Linked DNA regions of Homo sapiens: region 2 is linked to region 1. The links come from fine-mapping of genetic effects on gene expression. A gene starts in region 1. The other region holds a variant in brackets. All regions are shown on one strand. Distances are between the middles of the regions.

Region 1 (2,909 bases):
AGGACGGGGACCTCCCCTTAGTCCGTCCTCCCACCGCCGGGCCCTGCCCCGCATCCCGGCCTTATGCACTGCCCCTCCCACCCGGCCCCGCCCAGGCACGGCCGACCCCGCCCCGGGCACCGCCCACCGAGCCATCCTGCCTCGCCTCCCCCCACGCCTGCAGCTTCTCGCGAGGGGCGGCGACGGTCCCCTGGTGGCAGGAGGGGCTCCCCCTGTTGCGGGTGAGGCGGCTGCTCTCATATTTTCAGATGTTGCTGTAGAAATAAAGACGGTTTAAATCTGAGCTGGGCTTGTTTTGAGACGGAGGTCGGGGGCCCCCAGCGTCTCTAGACTGGGGTGGAGCCGGGAAGGGTCGTGCGTGAGTGGGGGACAGTGTGTCTCGCTCAACCGCTGTCCGCGCAGCTGGGCCCAGATATTGTGCCCCACCCCGGAATTGCGTGAGGGGCCCACAAGTCAGGCTTTCCCTAAAACACTCACTTGTGGGGTTCTGGAGACCGCGGGCTCTTATGAGCTCTGCTCCTCACAAAGTTTTTGACCTTGAGTGAGTTTCCCGAGACTCAGTTTTTTCATCTATGAAATGCGGGTGATGACGCGCGGCTGCGAGTTAGGACTGCCCAGTACACGAAGAACCCTGGACAAATGTACTTTTATTAGTCTTACTAGAACCCACATTCTCATTTAATGTTCACAACGTGGGTATTGGGAGGGCAAGGATGACTACCTCCGTCAGACAGATGTGAAACGTGCCAAGCCCAGCCCTAAATTGAGCTTTCTAAACACCGAGTCGCGGTCAGGCTTTCCAGCACTGTCCTCAAGCCTGAGTGCGTCCGGAGTGCAAACTACAAGCCCCAGAAGGCAATGCGCCAGCAGTGATGGGAGTGGGCGCGGAGGCGCGGGCTCCCCGACTACGCCTGCGCAGCGGGGCTGAGTTGGAGAACGTCTTAGACTACAAGTTCCGGGAATCAGCGCGGCGAGGCCTGAGAAGAAGACGTTTGCGCCTGCGCGTCGCGGGCGGGGCCTCTGGGGCGGAGCGGCCACCATCTTGGAACGGGAGGCGGAGCAGAGTCGACTGGGAGCGACCGAGCGGGCCGCCGCCGCCGCCATGAACCCCGAATAGTGAGTGAGCCCCGCCCGCGCCGTCCAGCGCAGCCTCGATCCCGAATACAGGGCTGTACGCTTACCGGGGTTGTCTGGCCCGGGTCAGGACTGTGCGGCGCCCCCACATCCGGGTCCCTCTTCCGCTGACCCCCCCCCACATCCGGGTTCTGCCCCTCCCCCCAGGGGCCCCAGGACCCCGGCTCAAAACCCCGAGCCCTCGCACCCGGGGCCCAGACGTGGCGACCCCCAGGGGCAGCTCTTGGAGCTCGAGACATCGGTCCTACCAGGCCTTATCGGTCAGATGACCCCGCAGTCCCGGTCACTTCAGGCCTCAGTTTCCCCACCTGCTGCTTGACAACTGTCCCGGAGTTTTGGAGCCCGTCTTGATAGTTTCTGGTCTCGGGTTCAGGCTTGGGCCCTTTAGGTCGGGCAGTGAATCCCTCTACCCTTCTCTTTCTCCTGAAGCCCGGCTCCTGGGGCCGGCCCAGAAGCTAGCCAACTACGCGGGAGGCCCCGAAGCGCCGCTTGGGTCGCGTCTCCCGCAGGTCCTCTCTTCCGGGGCTGCCTCCTACCCTTTGCCTGGGTCGCGCTGTCCTGTCGCTCCCGCCGGTCCGTCCTTTCCCGCCCTCTCCTCGCTTTTGCTCAGGCCCCCAACGCCACCGTCACACCCCTTCCCTTGGCTGTCACACTGCCTGTGAAGTTTAGATGAATATGGAATTTGCTCTCCCCCTTCCTGTGGGATTCTCTGGTCCTCAAACTCTCCTCACTCTTGGTCACTCCCCCTGCGGGTAGGTGGCCCACATCTCATGCCCAGGACTAATAGTTTTCCCCAAGTATCAGTTATCTTCTTCCTTTTCTGCCACTTCCTTTTTCTACTCCACATCCAGGTCTCAGATTTCCTTGGGGAAGGGTGAAGCTCTGAGCTGGATTGGGAGGGGAACAGAGAAGGGAACCAGCAGGCTCTCGAAGGGACTTTGGAGTCTGAGAAACCTGGTTTGAGTCTTAAAGCGATAAACTGTGTAAGTTAGGGCAAGTCACTTCCCTTCTCTGGCCTCTGGTTTCCTCATTAGTTGACAATGACAAAACTGACTTCATTGAACTGTTGTGAAGATTAAATGAGATGATGCATTTAAAGTACTTCACACAGGGTCCGTCCACAGGTTGGAACTCAAGTATATTAAATGTGATTACCTTTTGCCTTTTTTTTTTTTTATTTTGAGACAGGGTCTCTCTCTGTCACCCAGGCTGGAGTGCAGTGGCGTGACGATGGCTCACTGCAGTCTCCAACTCTTGGGCTGAAGCAGTCCTCCTGCCTTGTCCTCCTGAGTAGCTGGGAATACAGAGGCACACCACCACACCTGGCACATTTTTTAATTTTTTGTAAAGACAGGGTCTCGATATGTTTCCCAGCCTGATCTCAAACTCCTGGGCTTAAATGATTCTCGTGCCTCGGGCTTCCAAAGTGTTGGGATTACAGGTGTCAGTCACTGCACCCAGCCTTAAGTGCAATTTTCACTGCAACTTGACCACCTCTTCCTGGTGACTTCATAACAGGTTTTTGTTGTTGTTGTTGTTGTTGTTGTTGTTGTTGTTGTTGTTGTTGTCTCCAAAGAGATGGGGTTAGCCGGGTGCGGTGGCTCAGGCCTGTAATCCCAGGACTTTGGGAGGCCGAGGTGGGTGGATCACGAGGTCAGGAGATCGAGACCATCCTGGCCAACATGGTGAAATCCCGTCTCTACTAAAAATACAAAAATTAGCTAGTCATGGTGGCGCATGCCTGTAATCCCAGCCACTCTGGAGGGTGAGACAGG
Region 2 (2,909 bases), 110 kb before region 1:
TTTCTGCGTATTTTTGTTGTAGAAATTGAAAAGCTGGTTCTAGAATGTGTATGGAATGCAAAGTACTTAAAACTGGCAAAGCCAGCAAAAATTGAGGACTGACTTCTACAGCACCGCAAGGCTGTGATACTGGCAAAATAATAGACATGTACATAAATGAGAAGATGGAATCCAGAAAGAGATCCACACGTAAATAGACAATTGATTTGCAGCAAAGGTCCTGAGGCAATTCAATGGGGAAAGGAACATCTTTTCAACACATGGTACAGCAGCAACTAAATATCTGTGTGGAAGAAAACAAACATTAACCCATACCTTATACACTGCCCAGAAAGCTCAAAACGGACCAAAGTCCTAAACGAGTTAAAACTATAAAGCTTCTGGAAAAATTATAGGGGAAAACGTTCATGTGACTTCTGGGTGTGAAAAGATTTTCTAAGTAGGATACAAAAAGCACATACCATAAAATAAATGAATGCTAAATTGGACTTTATCAAAATTGAAATGTGCTTTTTCAGAAAGGAATGAAGAAAATGTACAATATGGGATAAAATGTTTACAATAGATAAATCTGACAAAGGATTGTAAAGAACTCTTACAGTTCAGTAATAGTAACCCCATTTTTTAAATGCACAAAAGATTTCAAAGTATACTTCACAAGGTAAGATAAAACAGTGGCCAGGAGCTACATAAAATACTTCATATTATTAATTATCAGAGAAAAGCAATTTCCAGCCATAATGAACTACCGCTCTTTACCCTCTACGTATGGCTAAAATTTAAGAGACTGATAGCTCCAGGTGTTGGCAAGGATGTGGCACAAGCAGAACTTTCATATCCTCTGTTGAGAATGTAAAGTAGTACTAGTTTAGAGAACAGTAGTTTGTTTTAAAGTTAAACAACAGTTACTCAAGGATACAGTAATTCCATGCCTAGATATTTATCTGAGAGGAATGAAAACGCAGAGGCTTCTCCATGAGTGTTTGTAGCAGCGTATTCATGACGGCCAAAGGCTGGAAACAATCCGGGGGCTCATCAGGTGAATGGATGAACAAACTGTGCTGTCCCAGTCCAATGAGAGCTCTGAGCAGGAAAAAGGAGCTCTAGACAGCATGGATCTGGCTCAAAAACATGCTTTGTGAAAGAAGCCAGACCCAGAGGTGTACATGCTGTATATTTATATAAAAGTCTCAAAGGTGCAAACCAGTGGATAGTGACAATAAAATAAAGGAGTGATTGCCTGGGGCTTGGGTGGAGGGAAGATTGCAAAGAGGCGTAAAGGAACTTTCAAGGGTGATGGAAATGCTCAGTGTCTTTATTGTGGGGGTGTTTCCACTGGTATATTGTATGTAAATTTTGTTTATTGTCTGTAAATTATATCCTCCACAAAGTTGTTTCATTTTTTAAATTATATATATATATATATATATATATATATATATATATATATATATATATAGTTTTTTTTTTTTTAAGACAGAGTCTTGCTCTGTCCCCCAGGCTGGAGTGCAGTGGTGTGTGATCTCGGCTCACTGCAACTTCTGCCCCCCGGGTTCAAGCCATTCTCCTGCTTTCCGCAGCTGGGATTACAGGCATGTACCACCACGCCCAGCTAATTTTTGTGTTTTTAGTAGAGATGGGGTTTCACCATGTTGGCCAGGCTGGTCTTGAACTCCTGGCCTTAAGTGATCCATCC[G/A]TCTTGGCCTCTCAAAGTGCTGGGATTGCAGGCGTGAGCCACTGCACCTGGCCTAAAGTTGTTTTTTAAAAAAATCTTTCCGGCTGGGCATGGTGGCTCATGTCTGTAATCCCAGCACTTTGGGAGGCCGAGGCAGGCGGATCACAAGGTCAGGAGATCGAGACCATCCTGGCTAACACGGTGAAACCCTGTTTCTACTAAAGATACAAAAAATTACCCGGGCGTGGTGGTGGGCACCTATAATCCCAGCTACTCGGGAGGCTGAGGCAGGAGAATGGCGTGAACCTGGGAGGCGGAGCTTGCGCGAGCCGAGATGGCGCCACTGCACTCCAGCCTGGGCGACAGAGCGAGACTCTGTCTCGAAAAAAAAAAAAAAATCTTTCCATGGTTTAATAAAGGCAGCTATTCAGTATTCACTCTCTAGGTGATGATTATACTTTAGGTTGTTTATTCTCTTTCCCAGAACCTCTTTCTTGTTCAGGTATCAGATTCTTCTTTGTGGTGATGTTCTTCTAGGAAGAATGTTCTGACCCCAAGTTCTGGTCATTTTGCTTTGTTTGATAATTTTGTCTCCCCTCAATTACGTAGGATGGTACATGTTACCAAGTTGTGACCAATGACAAATGAACAGATGTCTTCAGGGTCAGGAGAGACTTTTAGAAAAGATGGAGAAATGAGATGGATTATATTTCCTCCCTCCCCAACCCCACTAAAATGACAGTAAAGGAATTTTCTTTTAAAAAAGTTACAAATCTATAAGGATGAAGAGATTGGGAGAGGAGATCACAGTGGGCCAGAATTTTTCCCTACAAAATTTTGAAAACTGAAATGTAGGTGCATATATGATGAGTCATTTAGGTTTCAACTTCATCTGCTCCACTAAGTATTTGCAGTGGAGGAAGCTAACAGGAAGCAATCCTGTTTTCAGCCACATGTGGGCCATGTTCTGAGATAAGTTTTAGGTACCTGTGAATATAGGATATACACTGGGGCTGAAAACAGGAAAATGAGTTGAAAGTCTGAATGTGGAAGAGTTAGCACCCCAGATCCCCATCCCCAAAGAATATGTGTGTCAAAGTCTAACCTGGGGAAACCCTGTTATAAATGAGGGTGGGAGGCAGGTTTCTTACCCAAAATAGTAGATCAAGTTGAAGTCTGCATATTCAGCCAGATCTTTCCACCTACCTTCCTGTCTTGGCTGTGGGACTTGTTA

Evidence for each region. PIP is the estimated chance that this variant, and not a neighbour inherited with it, causes the effect.
Region 2: its variant is fine-mapped to the expression of RAB1B in whole blood (TOPMed, PIP 0.96).

The regions. Positions count from the first base shown.
Region 1 is chr11:66,267,578-66,270,486 of GRCh38, forward strand. RAB1B (RAB1B, member RAS oncogene family) reads left to right here and starts at 1,062. Exons shown (of 6, transcript NM_030981.3): 1 at 1,062-1,116. The coding sequence starts at 1,103. It overlaps KLC2 (kinesin light chain 2), which reads left to right. Exons shown (of 16, transcript NM_001318734.2): 16 at 1-283. KLC2-AS2 (KLC2 antisense RNA 2) reads right to left here and starts at 834. Exons shown (of 3, transcript NR_186342.1): 1 at 722-834; 2 at 478-631; 3 at 1-254. RefSeq lists a silencer at 1-160 and enhancers at 271-320, 621-670, 791-1,120, 1,281-2,162.
Region 2 is chr11:66,154,796-66,157,704 of GRCh38, forward strand. The region is part of intron 1 of PACS1 (phosphofurin acidic cluster sorting protein 1); the gene reads left to right. Among named protein-coding and RNA genes, the nearest start is that of PACS1, 86 kb to the left of the region's middle. The variant G/A (reference allele first, on the strand shown) is at 1,697.